Linked DNA regions of Homo sapiens. The protein of the gene in region 2 interacts with the protein of the main gene of each other region in a pairwise test. Each region holds a gene or a part of one and is shown on either strand. Other genes may lie near its edges.

What was found. The genes of interacting proteins can lie anywhere in the genome.
Region 1: the proteins of DEUP1 (region 2) and SKIL interact in binary tests that used the Homo sapiens proteins (3 or more experiments, as listed by UniProt).
Region 3: the proteins of DEUP1 (region 2) and KRT28 interact in binary tests that used the Homo sapiens proteins (3 or more experiments, as listed by UniProt).

The regions. Positions count from the first base shown.
Region 1 is NC_000003.12:170,388,650-170,395,893, reverse strand, and holds part of SKIL (ski-like protein), read right to left. Parts: intron 5,672-7,244; coding exon 5,430-5,671; intron 4,859-5,429; coding exon 4,634-4,858; intron 3,636-4,633; coding exon 3,477-3,635; 3' UTR 1-3,476. UniProt on the Homo sapiens protein: May have regulatory role in cell division or differentiation in response to extracellular signals.
Region 2 is NC_000011.10:93,333,706-93,340,949, forward strand, and holds part of DEUP1 (deuterosome assembly protein 1), read left to right. Parts: intron 1-7,244. UniProt on the Homo sapiens protein: Key structural component of the deuterosome, a structure that promotes de novo centriole amplification in multiciliated cells.
Region 3 is NC_000017.11:40,796,781-40,804,666, reverse strand, and holds the start of KRT28 (keratin, type I cytoskeletal 28), read left to right. Parts: upstream 1-4,707; 5' UTR 4,708-4,773; coding exon 4,774-5,223; intron 5,224-5,667; coding exon 5,668-5,750; intron 5,751-6,275; coding exon 6,276-6,432; intron 6,433-7,385; coding exon 7,386-7,547; intron 7,548-7,625; coding exon 7,626-7,751; intron 7,752-7,886. UniProt on the Homo sapiens protein: Essential for the proper assembly of types I and II keratin protein complexes and the formation of keratin intermediate filaments in the inner root sheath (irs).

The DNA.
Region 1 (7,244 bases), on a different chromosome or scaffold from region 2:
TGTATAATACAGCAGTTTTATGTCCCTTATTGCTGACAGCTTCGATAAAAACTATTAACAAGTAGTTCCAAGCACAGAAACAGATGTACAGTATGAGCACGATTTTTCTTTATATTAATTTTTAATGTCCTATCATGTGGATTAAATGCATAAAGGGCAAATAAAAATGAGGAATCTTCCCTAAGTAATCAAAACATATGCCTTATTGAGAAGAAAATTTTAGAAGCTGATTAAAATCCTTCAGCACTAGCTTTGCAATTAATTCTGGAGAAATACCTTGACACATCTTATAGTATTTGAGTTTCCTTATAACTTTACCTTCCTTCAAACAGAAGCTACCTATGTGCAAATAAACTGGTTGTTCTGTCAGGACTTCTAAAAGATATGGATAACCGGCAAATATATACTTTATTTCACCTACTTTAATAGCTGCTTTACAATTCGCTATGTACAAATGATTTTATATCTTAACTGGTAATATATTAAATATGTTATAAAATTAGTTCAAGAAGCATAAAACACCCTAACTCTCATGAACACAGAAATTCAAGCAAAAGAATATGCTTAAACAAAAACTAAAGCACACAGCAAACGTAAATTGTTGGTCAAATCTTTTCATAGTGTTATAAGTTACATTTGTGAAATTTAGGGTAGTTGAAGAGCTTCCTCAATAACAGCAAGAGGTTTTACATTTATTACCTTTATAGAGTAGGTACACTTTTCTCATAAAGTTTAGCCTACAGAAACTATCGCCACCCAAATTAAACATCACCCAAGCTAATATTCTTTCTTCCTTCTAAAGATGAGCTAGCAAAACTTTTTATAGGTTGTCCCTTTAATGCAGCTTTTTAGAATAAACATTTTTACATTTTTTCTTAAAAGAATTATTTTTTGAAGTCTGAGGAAAAATCCGCTTGCCTAGTGAATTTGGCACACAAAGAGTAACAACAAATCAAACTTTAAGCTAGCAACCAACACACAAAATAAGCATGCAAAGAATAGAATAAGTTTTATATGGATAAGGTATTTTAGCCAACTCCACTTATAAGGTATTACAAAATCTCTATATTGTTTTGAAGCTATGTGTTGCAGTTTAAAGTTACTTTTAACAATAATACGTATATTTACAATTGACTTAAAAAACTATTTTCAAGGAAGTTAGAAACCTATGGCACACCAACGCATCTTCTGGAAAATGAAGACGATACAATGTCATGTGGCAAGTTTTCAATATATGAAGGACTAGAAAAAATATTTCTTTACTCAATTCTGAATTACAAGTTCATAATAATTTAATGGTGTTTAAGCACTGCTTAAAATTTTCCAATAACATATTTCAAGGATTAAGCAATTTATTTTAGAAGTTTTGGGTTAAACAAATTATCATTTTCTAGGTAACATAAAGCAGAAAGGTTCCAAGTGAATTAGAAATATAAATGAAATTATAGGTGTTTGAGTTTGTCTTCCAAAAAGCTGAGCTGTGACACAAATAATTCAAAATTAAAATAAAACTATATCATAAATATCTGATTTTTCCTTCTCCAGATCTAAATAGATTGTATTGGGAGAATATGTCATTTTAAATATTTGTTTCTAAAAATTAGCCGGGAGTGGTGGTGGGTGCCTGTAGTCCCAGCTACTCGGGAGGCTGAGGCAGGAGAATGGCTTGAACCCAGGAGGCAGAGCTTGCAGTGAGCCGAGATTGCACCACTGAACTCCAGCCTGGGAGACAGCGAGACTCTGTCTCAAAAAAAAAAAAAAAAAAAAAAAAAAAAAAATTTGTTTCTACATGTCATTTTAATATTTGTTCCTCCTTGAGAAGATTCCAAGACTCAACGAATTAAATTAGTCTTAATATAGCAAAATTTAAATGGAAAATAGAAAACACACATTTAGGTTATACTCAATTTAGTAAATAAATTACATTTGGGGAAGTACAAAATTCTTTTTGGATATGTACTATTAAGCAAAATATGAAAATAACTGGTTAAATGACAACCTAGTGATTCTTTCTACACCATTAGATTATCTACCTTCTATGCTGGAAATAGAATATAACCTTAACCCTAGCTAATTTATTTTAAAATAAATATAGCTCTCTGAAGTAATTTCATACATAGTATCTTATAAGAGAACATGAAAAACATTTATTATCCCATAAAATCCATGGGGTAATAATGTCAATTAATGATAGTTTCAGGAAACTCCCTTTAAAAACAGATCTAAGAATTTTACCTAATATATTTTGAGCCAAGAATTAACAAATATGAAATTTGCCATTAGAGAATGACAGACTTTTCTGTGCAAAAAAAAAGTGCAGAAGATGTTGTCCCTCCTGAAACTATGGAATTCCTTTATCTTCTAAAACTTATCTAAAAATCTTTTAGTAGCAGGTAACTAAACTGTCCTATATGCACCTATCATGTACTATCAGTTGACTGTAAATTCCTGATTTTGATATTAAGTAGTAAATGAAAATGGTCCATTCGTGCAAATTTTGGTAAGACAACATTTAAACATACAGAAGTCCAAAATAACCTTCAAGGTGTTTAACATTTTACAACTTAAAGGAAAACAAGTCCATTATATAAATTTTAGTAAGACTCATAACTACATGTAAAAACTGTACAGGAGGATTATGGATTGTATAGAAACTGATACACAACAGTGGTATCAGTTTTTCTCAAGAACGTTAATATTTTCACACCACTATTAACAACACAAACAAAAGTTCAGAAATTATCACATTTTATTTTTGAAAAGTTGCTGCTTAAAAAAAAATCTAACTATAACCACATTTAAACTGAAAAACAAATTACAACTGCTGCTTCTGTTTAGCAGCAGCACATAACAACACATTCTTCTTCCCCACTGTGCTCATGGGGTATGCTATAACCTCAGTAAAATTCCTCCTAGGGTACACATTAAAAAGAAGAGAACTGGTGGAAATTCATTCCACAATCTGAACAAAGTAAAAGTAAATTTGGTGTATGTTAATGAGTACACCATATCAACTTAGAAAAATTGTGTTAATGAGAAAAGGGGAGATTCAACTCCTTGAGTAGCTCTATATACTTAAAATATAAAGCCACCATTGTATCTAAAATTGAGTCTGAAATATGGATAACAAAATTGACCACAGCTATTTTCCAACACATATTGCAGCTTTTAAAAAGTACACAATTGTTAAGTTTGCATTAGAAATATAAGCAGATTACCTACTAGTTGAAACCATATAGTATTGTTACTAAGCTGATTTTTTTAAAAAAGTACAAAGAAACATACATTTTCATTCATTTGGAAAATGTAAAAATTTAAGTACTAATATATAATCTCTTCACTTTCTCTGATCTACAAATGGATAGAATGCCTAGTTATCGTCATGCAGATAAATTCTTCAGAATTCAATTACCAAAGCAAGCAACAAACAAAAAAAACCTTGTCAGTAATACACAGATGAATCTCTTTAACAGTTTCTATTCTTTAGCAGTCTTTGATGATTTCAGAATTTGCAGCTTTAGCTCTTTTATCATCATCTCTAACTTCTGTCTTGCTTCCCGTTCCTGTCTGAGTTCATCTTGGAGTTCTTGCCTATCGGCCTCAGCATGGTCCAATCTCTGCCTCAGTTCTGCCAACTATGTGATTTAAAAGGCGCTATCAATTTTAATTGTTTTGTTTTTCCATTTAATCCTCATATCATAGAAAATATCTATTTTCAAATTACTTTTTACAAAACGAACTATTTCATGTATACTAAATCCATTAAGCATCTAATACTATTAATCTGACATCTGACAGGACACTAAATTTAAGAAAAAGCAAAGGAACAAGAGGAAGGAACACATCCAGCATGTTCATGTTCATTATGCCCTATACTTTACTATACCGCTCATCACAGCCTGCTCATGTTAGTTATTTGTTCATGTTCCTTAAATTGTGAGATTCTATTAACAAAAGAGAATTGCTTATTTTTGCTCCAGTGCTTTTGAACATAACAGGCAACAGTTCCTGTTTGTTAATTTGTAGATTTGAAAGCTCATATACTACATTAAAATAATATAACATATAATATTCAGAGGGCTAGAGATTAGCAATTTAGGTAACTAAACTGCAGTAACCCGATAAAAATTTAAACTAATAAAAGCAACAAACATCAAAATAATCATCTTGGACAATACAGCATAAAGCTATGTTTAACAGAATTATCTATTTTGAAATCTAGCTTAGTAAACTGAGCTTGACAAAAAGTAATTCCTTTATTAGAGAAGTAACGGTGGCCGGGTGCAGTGGCTCATGCTTGTAATCCCAGCATTTTGGGAGGCTGAGGTGGGCAGATCATGAGGTCAGGAGTTCAAGACCAGACTGACCAACATGGTGAAACCCCGTCTCTACTAAAAAATACAAAATTTAGCTGGGCATAGTGTCGCACGCCTGTAATCCCAGCTACAATCAGGAGGCTGAGGCAGGAAAATTGCTTGAACCCGGGAGGCAGAGGTTGTGGGGAGCTGAGATTGTGCCACTGCACTCCAGCCTGGGCGACAGAGCAGTCTCTGTCTCAAAAAAAAAAAAGAGAGAAGTAACAGTTTCCATTTCCATGCTGAAAGGGCACCATTATACAAACAGTAATTCTTACCTGTCCTGCATATTCAGCCTCTTTGTCTTTTTCTAAATTTGAGTCACAGGTACATTTTTGCTTCATTATCTGCTCCAATTTTTTCTCTAAGTCTTTCTGTTCAACATAAAATTCTTCCATTCTTTGAGCATGTTCATTCTGCAAAGATTCAAGCTCTTTCTGTAAATTCTGCTGTTCTTCAGTGAGTTCCTTCATAGATTTTGAACTACTCAACATTTTTACTTCCTGTAATGTAAAGAATCACAATACAAGTTTTACTTTATTTTCACCATGTTAAAATTTTCAGTTCTGGAAAACATAGCACAGAAAATACCTAAAATTCAGCTATCATTATCAGTTCTATATAGAGGTAATTATTTTAAAAAACTATTTTCTCAAAAAATTTTAAAATATATTAAAATTGCTTTTCAGTGTAAAACAATAATCTTAAGTACATTTGTAGCATCTCGTTTTGACTTTTCTTACTAAGAATATACAGGGGGGCTGGGCGCAGTGGCTCACACCTGTAATCCCAGCACTTTGGGAGGCCAAGGCTGGTGGATCACAAGGTCAAAAGTTCGAGCCTGGCCAGCATGGAGAAACCCCATCTCTACTAAGAATACAAAATTTAGCCAGGCATGGTGGCACGTGCCTGTAATGCTAGCTACTCGGAAGGCTAAGGCAGAAGAATTGCTTGAACCTGTGAGGTGGAGGTTTCAGTGAGCTGAGACTGCGCCACTGCACTCCAGCCTGGGCGACAGAGCAATATACAAAAGTATCTTTTCATAATGGACTATCATTTAGATAACAATTTTACCATCTGAAGTTGTTGCTTCTTTTGCAAAATCAAGTTTAGTTTTTCCTGTTGTTTTAAATAAGTTCTCATTACTTCTTCCATGATTTTTCCCTTATCATCCTCACAAATGACATCTTTCACAAGAAGCGGAGATGAAGCGGCAGCAACAAGGCCAATTCCCACTTTGTTTATGTCTCTGACTAAGTTGCAAGTGGCAGACTCAGATTTCCTTTTACTTGTAGAATTATTTGAGATTGATGCATCTTGGAGAGAAAAAAATCAAGTAACAAAGTATGAATATCACTCCATTAAAAAAATCACTAGAACAATCCATAAATGTAATTTTTAAAACATTTCATTTATAAATTAGACCAAAACAAATAAAATAGGAATAAATTTAACAAAAGCAGTGCAAGTACAATGAAAACTACAAAACATCACTAAAAGAAATTTAAGACCTAAATACATGGAAAGACATCCCAAATTCATGGATTGGAAGACTTAATATTGTTAAGACAGTAATAGTCTCCAAATTGATCTACTTATCAGTGCAATCCCTATCAAAATCCCCACTGGATTTTTTGCAGAAATTGAAAAGCAGTTTCTAAAATCCATATGGAAATGCAACAAACCCAAAATAGGCAAAATAATCTTGAAAAAGAATAACGAAGTTGAAAGACTCACAATTCCCAATTTCAAAGCTTACTACAAAGCTACAGAAATCAAGACTGTGTGACATGATTTAAAGATAGACATACAGATCAGTAGAACAGAATTCAGAGTCCAGAAATTTAAAAAACTCATACTTTATAAGGCAATTGTTGTTGACAAAGGTGCCAAAGCAATTCAGTCAGGAAAGAATAATCTTTTCTGGCCAGGCGCGGTGGCTCACGCCTGTAATCCCAGCACTTTGGGAGGCCGAGAAGGGCGGATCACGACGTCAGGAGATTGAGACCATCCTGGCTAACATGGTGAAACCCTGTCTCTACTAAAAAATACAAAAAATTTGCCAGGCTTGGTGGCGGGCGCCTGTAGTCCCAGCTACTCGGGAGGCTGAGGCAGAAGAATGGCGTGAACCTGGGAGGCGGAGCTTGCAGTGAGCCGAGATAGCGCCACTGCACTCCAGCCTGGGCAACAGAGCAAGACTCCGTCTCAAAAAAAAAAAAAAAGGAAAGAATAATCTTTTCAACATACGGACAACTATATCCACATGCAAAAGAATAAGGTTGGACCTTATGCTGTATACAAAAATTAACTCTAAACTGATCAAAGACCTAAATGTAAGAGCTACAACCCTTAAACATAAATTTCTTGGCTGGATGTGGTGGCTCACGCCTATAATCCCAGCACTTTGGGAGGCCGAGGCAGGTGGATTACCTGAGGTCAGGAGTTCACCACCAGCCTGACCAACATGGTAAAACTCTGTCTCTACTAAAAATACAAAAAAAATTAGCCAGGCATGGTGGCGCGCACCTGTAATCCCAGCTACTCAGGAGGCTGAGACAGAAAAATTGGTTGAACCCGGGAGGTGGAGGTTGCAGTGAGCTGAGATGGCACCACTGTACTCCAGCCTGGGCAACAGAGTGAGACTCTGTCTCAAAAATAAATAAATAAATAAATAAATACATAAATAAATATTTCTTGGAATTGGGATTAGGCAATAGTTTCTTAGATATGATACCTAAAACAAGAAAAAAATAGATAAATTGGATGTAATAAACATTTAAAACTTTTGTGCTTCAAAGAACACTAACACGGCCAAGCGCGGTGGCTCACACCAGTAATCCCAACACTTTGGGAGGCTGAGGCAGGTGGATTGCTTAAGCTCACGAGTTT
Region 2 (7,244 bases):
TAGAATATACACCAGGTTAGTAGAGAAAGTAGGATTTGAATTCAGGTATGCCTGGCTCCAATCCCTGTGTTCCTTCCTACATTGGAAATGGATGGCAATGAGATGCAGGGAGCAGCCTGCCTGGTATCCATAGCAGAGCCAGGTTAGGATTCTGGGTTAAGTATGTGTTGGGTCCCTGGTGTGATGATAGCACTAAGAGCTAAGATGCAGATTGAAGATGTTGAACCTAAGGTTGGGTCCCAGATATCACTTCACTCCTACAAATCCAAGGCCATGGAGTCATTTAAGAAACAGACCTTGTCTTTAAAGAACTTAGAATTTAGTAAGGAACAGTAGAACTTGTTTGGGTATGGTGTAATTACAACCCCCCAAGTTAATGAGAGTTTTTAGAGGTTTTCCTGAGGTACTGTTCCACTCATCACAGTAGACATGGGTCCACACACTGCCTACCACGGTCTCCAAAGCATGGAGACCCCAGGTTGGCATTGCCTCAGTCCCACATGCTATTGAGAGTTATGTATAAATCTAGATCATGAATACAATAAAACTTCATCATCAGGGACTTGTTATGTAGCTTATTAAACCATGTCATCTACATATACAGTAATGTTTTGTGGAGCAGCCTACATTTAACAGATACCTATTTAGAGTCTACTGTGAGCTACTTACTGGTCTAGGCACCAGGAAGGTAGCAGTGAACAAAATAGACAACTTCTTCTCAAGGGGCTTATACCATAGTGGAAGAGACAGATAATAAACGTATAAATTTGTATCATATGGTGATATGAAGAAAAATAAAGCAGGCTAAGGGTGGGAAAAATAGAGAGTGTGAATGGAGTGGTCAAATAAAGATACTTTGGTAAGGCAGCATTCGAGCAGAGATTATATCTGGGGAAAAGATTACACAGAGCAGGAGCAGAAAGTGCCAAGGCCTATGGTGGGAGCTTTCCCACAGAACATTTTCAGTGTGAGTGAATCAATATTCTCTGATATCATGGTTATAACCGGGTTTGATGTTAATTTATCCATGATTTCTTCCAATTATAGGTGTTTGTATTTGTGCCATAATAATCTAAACTCCTTGTAATTGAAACTCAATTTTATGTTTGTTCTTTTTGTTTTTAAAGTGTGTTTCCAGAACATAATTATAGAATAAGTGATCCCTTTTATTGGCCTTTTTAAGAAAACCTTCTCTAGGTTTTGCTTTGTTTTTGTTTTCTTATTCATGAATTTCTACTTACTAGTTTTCCCTTTTATGGTTTATTCTATCTTGTTCCCATGGGTTGAAAAATGTGCTTCAGTTATTTTCATGATTTCTGGATTTCATGATTTCTTTAAATAATAAAAGCATGTAAGTTTCCTCCTGAGCACAGCTTTGCTGCCTGCCATAGGGTTAGTGTTCTCACCATCATTTTCTAAATAATCTATCATTTCAAATTTGATATCTTCTTTGACTCAAGAGATATTTACAAAATGTAATTTCAAGGGGCATTTAGTTATCTTTTTATTATTACTTTTTAATCTTTCTACTGTCATAGTCATAGGATATGGACTATATGATTTTGACTCTGTCAATTTCACTAAGATTATTCTTGTAGTCTATTGCAGGATCAACTTTTATTAATGTCCTTTGGGTATTTGAAAACACATGTATGTTCTCTTTTGGTTGAGTAAAAAGGCTAAAAAAGTTATATAATCAAACATTTTAATTGTTGTTATTATGTTTAACTTGTGTTTTTCAAGTACAGTTACATTAATTTTTGTTTATTTGATCTGTCAAATTCTAAGGAAGATCTTCACTATAATTGTAGTTTGTCTAGTCCTTCTTGTATTACTAACAATTTTTGGTTTACATATTTCAGTGTTCTGTTGCTTGATGTGTCAAGGTTTATGCGTATATCTTCTCAGCATATTATATGATTAACATTATAAAATATAGCACAAGTATAAACTAATGTTTTCTGTTTTAATTCTACTTTGCCTGATATTAATATTACCATCCCTGCTTTCTTTTTAGTTTACTTTAATCAATAATATCTTTGTTCATCACCTTGTTTTCAACCTTTTTTAGGTCATATCAAGTTTTTCTCCACATATAAATAGCATATGGTTAGATTAACAAATAGAGGCCAGGTGCAGTGGCTGACGCCTGTAATCCCAGCACTTTGGGAAGCCAAGGCAGGTGGATCACCTGAGGTTGGGAGTTCAAGACCAGCCTGACGAACATGGAGAAACCCCGTCTCTACTAAAAATAAAAATTAGCCTGGTGTGGTGGTGCATGCCTGTAATACCAGCTACTCAGGAGGCTGAGGCAGGAGAATCATTTGAACCCGGGAGGCGGAAGTTGCAGTGAGCCGAGATTGTGCCATTCCACTCCAGCCTGGGCAACAAGAACAAAACTCCATCTCAAAACAAAAACAAAAAACAAAACCCAAAAAACAAATAGGAAGCATAGCTGGGGAGACCTCAGGAAACTTACAATCATGGCAGAAGGCGAAGAGGAAGGAGGCATGTTTTATGTGGCCAGAGCAGGAGGGAGAGAGAGAGAAGGGGGGAGTTGCATCTCCTGAGAACTCACTATCACAAGAACAACAAGGGGGAAGTTCGCCCTCATGATTCAGTCACCTCTCACCAGGCCCCTCCTCCAACACTGGGAATTACAATTCGACATGAGATTTGGTTAGGGACACAGAGCCAACCATATCAGCGGGCTTATTGACAGTGGTCTTTACTCCATAGTCATCAGACTAGGCAGTTTCCTTGCAGGACCCCAGGTCACTCTCTTTCAGTCTTTTGTCTCAGGCTAATCAGATTCCAGAGAATTCTAATTTCCTACCTGGAGAGTATACCAGCATTCTGGGAGCTGAAAAGGATGAGGGGGCTGAATTCAGACTTACATTGTTGACCTTAACCCCCCCAGTTTCCAGTACAGTGGTCCTGCCATCTACTGTACCTGGTGTTCCCCAACCCCAGTCCAGAGCCTTTCTGTTTTAGCTTCTCCAGAGAATATGCCTGGATTCGAATGCCAGTGAGGAGATCTAGGAGTCAACCCCTTCTTAGCCATTCCTCCTGTTTTCAGGCTGACACTCACTTGCTACTTCCAGATGTATCTAGTTGGTTTGCTACTTGGCTTTGTCCACTGCTAGTTCCTGTTATTTTTATCCTTCTAGGTTTGACCTTCTAGGTTAAAAATATCCCTTTACTTTGTGTTAGTAGGATTTGGGGAGGGAACAAAATGTGTGTGCATACATCTTCAACCAAATTCTCATTTTTCTCTACTGAATCTTTTACTGTACCTTTTATTCTGTGACTTTTATCTTAGCCATTGATCTCATTCATAGAATCTTGTCAAATGCTTCCTAAACATCTAGGTACTGCTACGTGATCCACCAGATTCTTCTTATCTGCTGTGAAAGTCATTATTTTCAAAGAACCAAGGTAGATGAATATTAAATCATAACTTCTTGCATCTGATTCAAAAGGTCCTTTAAAACTATACTCTTTTTGTGTGCATCTTTCTTAACCCTTAAAGTATTCTTTCCCTCTGAGATATATTAATCATCTTTACTTTACTTACCAGGTTCTTGACTTTATGAATCATAACTTTACTTACCAGGTTCTTGATGAGTTAAACACAGTTTTAATTACAGTTTATAAAATAAAATCTAATTTTTCTGATGTAAGTCAACATATTGGTACCTGAATAAATTATATATTATTTTTGCACATTGAAAATTCTTTTTAAATTTGGTTAATTCCCTTGCTTTCTGGTTAGCCCAGACTGTACCCCCTTACTCTCCCTCTCTTCATACTTTATTCACCTCCCCCCATATACACGTATATTCCTCCCCAGAGTAATCAAACTGGACAAGTTCTTCCAGTTTCTTGTATCTCTGAAGAAGAAACAAAGTAAAGTACATCTGGGTTAAAATCCTGACATGTCAAACTTGACGGTAGACTCTGAAATGTTAGCAGTGCTGAGTGACTGTAGGAATTAAATGCATGTTTTTGAAAGGAAGGAAAGTTATTAGGAAGGAGAGAGAGGGAGGAAGGAAATAAGGAAAGAAAGGGAAGATTTCTACAAGAGACCTAATCAAACTGCTAGTAAGTTTAAGGAAAGATGAAAAAGTACCACTGTGTAGGATAAATTTGCACATACGTTTCACAGGAAAATCTTTACAAAAGATTAGTTACAACATACATTTTCTTAAAAATCTGATATGTGTGAATGTAGATATGTACATCAGGTGCATCCCACCTAACCTGACCTGGTTGTCTATGGTGCTTAGTTGTATGGCACCTTGGAACCACCTGGGACTTTGTGAGCCTCTAATCAGAGCACTGGTGAAACAGAGAAGTGCTAAAAACATGAATATTACAGATATGTGATGAGTGCGTTTGTTCTCTCCCCAAAAGAAAGAAGCAGTCTCATTGGACAGCAGTTAGTATAAAAGTTGTACCCTCCTTGAACTCAAGAAGCAGAAGGAAAAGGAGAAATAGAGACAAAAATAGAAAAGCTGGCAAGAGAAGTAGCAACACAAGTATCAGTGGTAATAAGAACGTTAAGAAGTTGGTCCTATAACACTATAGGCCAGCGTATTCCAGGGGCCCTAGCTCTGTTCAGCAATGTTTTGTCTTCTCTTCTGTCACACCACAGGGACAAGCACAGTGCCTGACATAGGGTAATTATGCAGTCAACTTTTTTTTTTTTTTTTTCCTGAGGCAGGGTCTTGCTCTGTCACCCAGGCTGGAGTACAGTGGTGTGATCTTGGCTTCCTGCAATGTCAGCCTCCTGGGCTCAAGCAATCCTCCACCTCAGCCTCCTGAGTAGCTGGGAGGTACACACCACCAAGACTGGCAATCTTTTTGTTTTGTTTTTTGTAGTGGTAGGGTCTCACTATGTTGCCTAGGTTGGTTTTGAACTCCTGGACTCAAGCAATCCTCCCACTTTGGCCTCCCAAAGTGCTAGAATTACAGGCATGAACCACTGCTCCCAGCTCAGTCAACATTTGTTGAATGAATGAGTGAACTGAAAGAATGACAGCTTATTAAAGGCAATAAACTGTCAAACAACAGGGAAATAAAATATAAATACCAATTTCAAAAGACTAGAGAAGAGTTGAATCAAGAGTTCAGAATTAGATAGAAATGAGGTTGTATAAAAGCAGGGTGTGAAAAAATGAAGAGAATCCAGGACTATTTTCATAGATACACTTGGGGTATTGAGGACTTGCCTTTTTAATTGGAGAATGTATGGGGAATGGTTACATAGGAATGGCTTCAGCCAGGGACAAAACATACCCATGTGCTTTCATGGACTCTCCAAGGGTAACATACTAAGACTCACAGTTTTCACCCTTAAATGTTATTTAAGTTAGGTTGTGTCTTGAAATCAGAAGATACATTTGGCTATTATTCCCTGTTTCCTCTAAAAGCAATTATTAAGTTATTGTTGCTTCTTATAATAGAAAGTGTTATAGAATGACAGAAATATGTTTCACATGTTGCCATATTAAAGCACAAACATATATGGCATAGCCATTTATGGGGAAATCCACTGGCCAACCCATAGTGCCGTGGAGTAACTATACCTATAATCTGTACAAATGCTAGAGTACAAGATGAGCAGCACACAGCTAGGTGCACTATACAATCCATGCAATGAAATGGTTTCCAAATTTTCTCTAAAAAGGAGAAAGGGGAAAATGCAAATACTTTATGCTAATCTTATAAATCTTCAAGTTATACACTACTTAAAATGGTTCAAGAATAGGAAAATAAAAAGATGAATCAACAAAAGAGCTGGCTTATAAAGGACAGCTAGTCAAATTACCCATAGAGGCTATCCATTTATATTAGAAACAGGTGGCATATGAGGCATAATTGGTGCAATGGCCCAGGGACTCAGGAATATCCAAATCTTGCCTCAAATCACCAACAACCCCAAGGGAGACTTACCATAGCAAAGGAACGCAAGACACTTTGAGTGGTAATGATAACGAGGGAACCCACCTTACACAGTGTCGGAGGAGGCCACGTAGGAAAGAGTAATGAGGCATCCCTACCCGTCCCAGCCAAGGTGGTATCAGTGCAGAGCTACTAGGGGCCTGAACTGTCACCCCCACCCAGCAGTAATGAGGAGTTCCTCCCTCCAAGTGGCAACAGAGGCTGAGTCGAGAACCTGAACTTCCACCACTGTCTGGCAGTAATGAGGTGGCATTCTATTCCCCTGCTGGAGTATTGTCAGAAGGGGTCTGCTAAAACACAAAATTCAAATAAAAACCAGAAGCTCGTAATATAATACCCAAGCAAATTAGGGTTCCTATTTTTCTGGAGGTGGGAAATTTAGAGCTGATACTATGGCTCTGCGATGGTATCAGAGACCTCATTGGAGCTTACAGTCTAGTGGAGGGAAACAGATTATAGCAAATAAATAAATCTATATTATGTTGGGGGTGGTAATAATCACTATGTAGAAAAAGTAAGCAGATTATGAGAATAGAGAGTTACAGAGTAAATCTGGTTAGGTGACATTTGAAGAAAGACCTAAAAAAAGTGAGAGATGTAGACATCTGGATATCTGGGGGAATGGCATTCCAGGCAGAGGAATCAGCAAAAGCAAAGCTTCTGCAACAGGAACATGATTGACGTTTTCAAGGAACAGAAAAGAGGCCAGTTAGAGAGGAGGAAGCAAGGGGGAAAGTGGTAGGAGATGACCTCAGAAAGGCAAATAGGGCCAAGTCCTGAAGGGCCTCACAGACCTTAGTCAAGGCTTCAGATTTCACTGTGTAAAATGGGAAGTCACTGGAGGACTCTGAGCAAGGGAGTGACATTTTCTGACTTAATATTTTAAAAGGCTCGCTCTAGTTGCTATGGGAAGAATAGACCATAGGAGGGTAAGGGTTGAAAAGGCAGACAAGCTAAGCTGTGGGAGATGACAGTAGATCAGATTGATAGATGTAGACATAGTGACAAATGGGTTTGTTTTCATGAAATAGCTGACAATGTTATAGATCCTGGATTGGATATGGAGTGTGTGAGAAGATGATGAACAAAGGATGGTCCAAAGACTTTTGGCCTAACAGCTGGAAGGGACAGAATTGTCATTTATTAAATAAGGAAGACTGGAGAAAATGCAAGCTTGGTTTGAGATGCCTGTTATATATCCAAGTGAAGACGTTTGTCGTATGTCCAAGTGAAGCTGCCTGTATGTACACCTGTATATAGCTGTTTGTGGTCACCTT
Region 3 (7,886 bases), on a different chromosome or scaffold from region 2:
ATTGCTTTAATCTAAATTAGGTCCTCCCCTAATAGTTCCATATTCCTTCCTTCCCTAATTTTTACAGCAATTTGTAATTTTATGCTTATTTGCTTAAGGCTCAACTCCCCAATAAACAATAAGTTCCATGAGAGTTGAGAAGGCCTCTATTTTCTTCCCCTTGGTACCACCTGCCACTAATGCAATGCCTGGCACATAATAGGTGTTCACTAGATCAAAAAAAAAAAAGTACTGGTCACTAGGCTTAGTACTTGGATGACAAAATAATCTGCACAGCAAATCCCCATGATATGAGTTTACCTGTATAACAAACCTGCACATGTATCCCTGAACCTAAAATAAACGTTTTAAAAAAATAGGTGATCACTAAATATTTCTTGACTGAACAAATGAGTGAATGAATGAATGACACCTGATAGCAGAACTGTAGCCAAAAATTTTATTTTGCTATTAATTCGAAATTCTGCAAAGAATTTGTAAGAAGACAAATTAAAGACATTAAAGACAGATTTTTGCATTGTTTGGTTTTCATTTCTCTACCTGACCTTAAGATAATTATGAACTGAAAGGACCACCTCACTGAGACACAAGGCGCGTTCTGGGCCTTGTCCATCCCGTTTCACACTGTGTATCCTTGAATGGTTCCTCTGTTTCCTTATCTTTAAAACAGGGAAAGAAAACCTCTCTCTTCCTAATTCCCACCTTCATTATAAGGTTCAAATGAGATCATATACAAGAAATCCCTTTGGAAGCTGTAAAGCAGCATATCAATGTAAGGCCATCGTGTCTTTGTACTTATCACACTCTGTAACTTCACAAAATTAAATGCTGAAGCTGCTTGTTTGCAGAGGTTTAATCATTTCCACCTGAGGACAGCAGGGACCCAGGCTGGAGAGGAGGTTCCGCCCCTGGCATCTGCGCGGCGAAATCCATATGTAAACGAGCCCTGCCCCCTGGTGGAAGGAGAAGGGTGAGCGTGCCCGGCAACTGGGATGGTCAGGATCCTAATGACAGACGCTGGCTGAAAAGGAGAATCCGCTTATTTAAGCATATACTTTTTAAAGAAATAGTTTGTCATTTTTTCTTTTTGTTGTTTTCATGTGTTTTTTAAATTAACAAATTATAATTGTGTATATTTATGTTGTACAACATGATGCTTTAAAATATATGTACTTTTTAAAGAAAACAAAAAAAAACCCAGGGTGATGTTTTAAAATATGTATACATTTTTAAAGGAAAAAAACCCAGTTTTCTTTTGATTAAGAAAAGTTAAAAAAAAGACAAAAAGAAAATACGTGTACATTGTGGAATGGCTCAGTCAAAGTAATTAACCCACACATCACCCCATATCTGTATCATCTTTTGTGGTGAAAACACTTAAATTCTACTCTCTTAGCAATTTTCAAGTATGCAATGCATTGTTGTTTCTTTTCTTGTTGTAAAATGGCCTTTTGGAAACATTTTACTTACTTATAAAGGATACAGACACGTTACACCAATGAGTTGTCTAATTATTATTTGGAGTTTAGTAATAAATGAGAGATTTGCAATTCTTTATACATTTTCATATTCTAATTCCTTATAGCTAAATCTCAGCAATTCAATTAGAATCATTTTACAACTCACGCGTGTTAAGACTATGGATGGTGTATGCTAGAAAATTTCAGCTTATATATTTCCCTATGTGTTACATGCGTTTTATTTAACTTTGTTATACTGTGTATATTGTGTACATACTGGACAAGTGAGTCCTAATTTTATAATATCTAGTCTCTAGATATTAAAGAGGTTGCCAATGTTTAAAAAAAGACTACAAATGGCAACATATAAAGTATTTGTATGAGCATGCATCATAGAGTAATTACTTATGTCTAAATATATTCACGGTGCCAGAATACCAAGGTCAACTTGAACATATGCCACGTTTTCACCTGGCCTATCCCTCACAGCTCTGAGCAAATTGTTCAACATTTCTGAGTCTCAGTTGCCCTGAACTGCCAAATAAGGGGCTAAATTAGGTGATGTCTAAGGCTCTTTGCAACTCTAAAAATATCCTACAACTTTGTCCAGAAAATGCATCTTAGAGGCCACACGCGAGCCACCCTCAGCACCAGCTAATCAGGCTCCAGACTGTTTAGGCCAAGGCAATTCCAGGAGACCACCCCTGACTATTCTGGTGGCAAAACAATTTTATACTTGTCATCACTCCCTGAACCCAGTCAAATCCAACCAAGTGGACTCAAAACCAGTCACGTCCAACCAAGTGTCTCCTGTCCCTTGTCCCTCCTTTTTCCTGCCCTGCCAACCCTCTTCATCCCCACCCTCCACAGCCATGGCCTCAAGAGGAAGGAGGCTTCTCCTTGGTCACCTCTCCTTCCCTTCCAGCCTGATGTCCCAGCCCTCCACACTCACACACCCAGTTAGGAACAACACCAATAGTAATAATAATGGCTTCCATTCATTGACAGTTTTCCATTTGCCAGGCACCGCACTAAGCATGATCTCATTTAGTTTTTCAACAAGCTTATGAGGTGGAAACTCTTTTTACCCACACTTTGACAATTACATGAACCTTTTCTGCAGACCTCTCTGCAAAATAGTTCAACTGAAATGATTCTTTAATAGCATTAACCACTTTCTGCTGAATTGTCCTAACAACTTTTTCTATCAGAAACTTATCCTTCATCCTCGATCTCCATTCCCATCTCTCTCCCCTTTCCTCTCATTTTCTCCCACATCTTTTCCTCTCATTTTCTCCCACATCTTTTCTTGTCATCTCCTCTCCATCCTCCTTCTTCACTTCCATCTCCTCTTCTGCTCCCACTTCCACACACCTAACATAAGGACTTCAAGGCAGAGTCTGTGTTCTCTAGATCCCCAATGCCACATCTAGCTTTGTGCCACTTAATTCTTATGCTAAGACTCCTCTTTTGAGGCAAATGCCATCCAATGGCCCCTCACCACATACACTCCCCTCTGCCTCATCATCCAAAAACCTTGACAATGGCTCACAGCCCACTTCCCTCCTGTCTCCTGCCATCATGAGAAACTTCACGCCTTTATAGATGGTACATTTAATGTCACAGACAGATAGTTCCTGACCTCCTACTCTCTTGCCTTTCAGGTCCAATCCACTTCTGACTTCTTGTTCCAGTGACTGTTGGTCCACTCCCATGACTACTCTGTGGACTTTGGTGACACCTGGAGTTGTGCCTACTTTAAAATTCTAAATTCTGGTTTCCACTATCCAATTTTAGCCTGTCATCCTTCACCTTTATCAATCTCCTCCTCACACTCCGCCTGCTCCATGACCTCATAAGGATACCCAATGACTCACCCTCTGCCCTTTTCTTCAGTCCATCTGTCCCTCTGGTTTTACTTTCTTCTTGCTATATGATCATACAGTCAATCGCCTCAATTGTTTTCTCAAGAACACCAGAAATTTCTTTGCCACTATTTCCTTCTTCTGGACCTGTCTTCAAATCCCAAAACCCACATCAATCTGATCATCATCCTTTCTATTCCTGCACCAGGATTACTTCCAAATATGCAGTTGAACATCATTATAAATGAGAGCTGGACCCTCCAATTTTCTTTTACTCATTGCTAGTCAAGTATTTTTCCAGTTCAGTATACATATTCTAAACAGTCATTCTTGCTATCAGTCACCTTCATCTGGAACATTCTGGCAACCCCTCAAATCCAGTTGGTCCAAACCTAAACTCAGTGTCTTCCTCCTCCTCTATTCCCCATCTCAGTGAATATTATGAGTTCCCAGAATCTAAAATTAATTACCTAAGAGTTATCCCCAATTCTGCCTTATTCCCTACTCTCCAAATTCAATCATATTACCATATGCTCTCAAAGCCATCTTCTCTGCATCCCCACTGCCTTCATCCTTCTCACCTGGACCATTATTCCAACCTTGTAATTGACCACCTTGTTTCATTTCAACCTGATCATTTTGCCCTCTGCTTTTTACTTAGGATTCATTACAAACTCTTTAGACCAGCACAGAAAGCTAACCATGATCCAGCCCCTGTCTGGACCTGACAATAGATTTCTTAAAGATTGTAATCACGCATTTTTCACTTCTGCATTTAGTTAACACTATGTCTTTCATTTTAGCACTTAGCATAGAGCACCAAACATCATAACCATGCTATTTTAAACAAAATAATAGGTCAATATTTGTGTCATTGTCCAAGATAATAAATAGATGTTATAATCATGGTAAGAACAGAGATGTCACTAGCCTCTGTTTTCTAAATAACACATTTTTTTCTGGTGGGATAAAATATCTGTTTCTGTAATTAGCAGTCCTTTATACCCCTCCATGGTAATTGAGACCCTACTGTACCTCACAGAACTCTATCATAATCTTACTTAACTTTATAAAAAATTTGATAATACCTGGCGCCAGATAATGACAGTATATGCCTAGGGTCTAGATGAAAGGAAAGGATTACTCACTCAAAATTAGAAGTTAAATTAATAAACTTAATATAGAACAAACCCTATTATATTTAAGATAAGAAATAGCCCAAAGCAACACCGAGGGATGTTAGACATTAATTATTTTTAAAATCACCCAATTATACATAATTTTATGCTAATCTAAGTGATGCCATTTTGCTTTTGGCATGTATAACTCAAATAGGAACGCCCCAATAATGATATATAAAAACCCAAAGAAATTATCAGTGCATGATATTCTGTTCTCTTGGGACATTACAGTTTTGCATAGACAAGGTGAACATTTCTCAAAACACCATGTCTCTCCAATTTTCTAATGGATCCAGGCATGTTTGCTTAAGGTCTGGAGCTGGATCTGTCAGACCCCTCAATGGAGGTGCAGGCTTTGCAGGCAGCAGTGCATGTGGTGGCTCTGTTGCTGGAAGTGAATTTTCCTGTGCCTTGGGAGGGGGCTTGGGCAGTGTTCCTGGTGGGAGCCATGCTGGTGGTGCCCTTGGAAATGCTGCTTGTATTGGCTTTGCTGGAAGCGAAGGGGGACTCCTCTCTGGAAATGAGAAGGTGACCATGCAAAATCTTAATGACCGCTTGGCATCCTACCTGGATAATGTGCGAGCTCTGGAGGAGGCAAATGCTGAATTAGAGAGAAAAATCAAGGGTTGGTATGAAAAATACGGACCTGGATCTTGCCGTGGACTTGATCATGACTATAGCAGATATCACCTAACAATTGAGGATCTTAAGAATAAGGTGAGAAATCACAGATTTGGAACTAACCCAAGTATTTAAAACTAAGAAATACCTAACAAAAGACATACAATAAGAAATGCTTCATGACTGTTATAACTTGTATTTATTTATTTAGATAAACAATTCTTCCTACTATTCAAAAATGGGCCCTTTGATTCATGAATTTTAATGTAGTTAAAATGTTATTAGTTCCATTGTTTATGTTGAAGTACATTCATAGGCATATGAATAAAAAAGTATTGTAGTTCTAAATTTAGGGGAATATATGAGAATAAATAAAACCATGTCTTTAATTTTTAAAAGTTAAACTTGAAACATTTTGATTATTACATAAGGAGGTGAAATTTTTATGCAAAAACTTGAGTAACCTTTTTCATTTCCTGAAATAATGAATCACATAAAAGCATACTTACTTGTTGTGTTCTCTGTTTTGGTTTATTCTAGATTATCTCCTCCACTACTACTAATGCTAATGTCATTCTGCAGATTGATAATGCCAGACTGGCTGCTGATGATTTCAGGCTAAAGTAAGTGACAGAAGAAAATCCTGCTCTAGAAAAAAGTTTCTATTTATTTAATTTGTTAAATAAAATTTCTATTTCATCCCAAGTAGAATGAACTATCACCTAAAAGATAAAAGGAAGCAAAGGATTTGTATTATAATGTTACAATCAACTTATACATAGTTATTATATTCCTGGGACAAAATATCAATATATTTCTCTGCCTGCCTAGAATACTGCCAAGCACAAAGTAGATGCTCAGTAAATCATTAGTCAACTAAGGAAAAACGTTAACTAAAATAAAATTCCAAAATGGTGTATTTTTATTTAACTAGGTTATGCTATTGGAATTTGTGTGATGAAATAACTTCCAATTATCCTGTACAGAATTGAGTGGGGGTAATGCAGGAGCGCTTTCTTCATATATTTTTATACTATTTACAGTCCTAATTCAATTTCTAATTTTCAGTTTAAAGCAATTGGGATTGAATATTTCTGTTTCTTGGGGTAGTCTTACTGGCACTGAAATTCACTTAAATGCCCCCCAAGGTATGAAAATGAGCTCACCCTTCACCAAAACGTAGAGGCCGACATCAACGGATTACGGCGAGTCCTGGACGAGCTGACGCTCTGCAGGACCGACCAGGAGCTGCAATATGAGTCTCTGAGTGAGGAGATGACATATCTCAAAAAGAACCACGAAGAGGTAGGAGAAGCTTTACCTGTAGTCCAATCACAACTCTGTACATTTTAAATACTGGGCAGGGGTTGGGGGTTAAAATCACAATAGTAATTCAGGTTCATTGTTATAATTTGCCAACGGATACAGACAGATTAGTCTAATAATACTACCTACTACGAGGGGATGTTAAAAGGCTTCAATGAATTAATACATATCACACGCTCAGAACAGTGCCTGGCCTATAATAATCACTCAATAAATGACAGCGGTCATCCCTAGGATGAATGCCTATGAGGGCCAGGATTTCAGGATTTTTTCTACTGTTCTATTCCCATCAACCTGACATTTAGTCAGTAACTATATGTTGAGTAACTCTCCGGTCTTTAAATCCCTTTCTCATTTAAAAGAATAAATTACTTCTCTTGGGGTGCTATGACTGTTTTTGGTGGTGGTGGTAATTTTAATTAACAGGTCCCTAATTTTTTTTGTTTGTTTTCTATTGCTTTGTTTTGAGACAGAGTCTCGCTCTGTGGCCAGGCTGGAGTGCAGTGGCGCAATCTCAGCTCACTGCAACCTCCACCTCCCAGGTTCAAGCAATTCTCCTGCCTCAGCCTCTGGAGTAGCTGGGACTACAGGCGCACACCACCAAGCCTGGCTAATTTTTGTATTTTTAGTAGAGATGGGTTTTCGCCATGTTGGCCAGGCTGGTCTGGAACTCTTGGCTTCAAGTGATCCGCCCGCCTCAGCCTCCCAAAGTGCTGGGATTACAGGAGTGAGCCACCTCGCCCGGTCAACAGTTCACTAATTAAATAGATGATTGGCATGAATATGGACCGAATATGTCAATTAAAAAATTGTGTGCCATAAATTATACACCTGACCGCAAACTTTGAGACATAAAGTAACACGTTTGAGAACTTCTCAGACTGAGTGTGAACCTGCAATGCCCCTAAAGCCACACTCTTGCTTCTCTCCAGGAGATGAAGGCTCTGCAGTGCGCGGCTGGGGGCAACGTGAACGTGGAGATGAACGCGGCCCCGGGGGTAGACCTCGCGGTTTTGTTGAACAACATGCGAGCGGAGTACGAAGCCCTTGCAGAGCAGAACCGCAAGGACGCGGAGGCCTGGTTCAATGAGAAGGTGAGGTGGGCCCCGTCTCCCTGCTCACACCTCCCCGGGGGTGGGGACTCCGTGTGACCCTTTTTCCCGGCCCTACAGAGCGCCTCGCTGCAGCAACAGATCTCCCACGACTCAGGCGCAGCCACTTTCGCCCGGAGCCAGCTCACCGAGATGAGGCGCACCCTGCAGACCCTGGAGATCCAGCTGCAGTCCCTGATGGCCACGGTAGGTGACAGCGAAGGTCAGCCTGGATCCTGTGATTCTAGAAAGCCTCCGAGAAACACTTCCCTCTGCCCTTCCTTCTTTTTTCCTATTATACCTTTGCCTGCAAATACTTAGCAGAGAGAGTGGAGGAGAGCA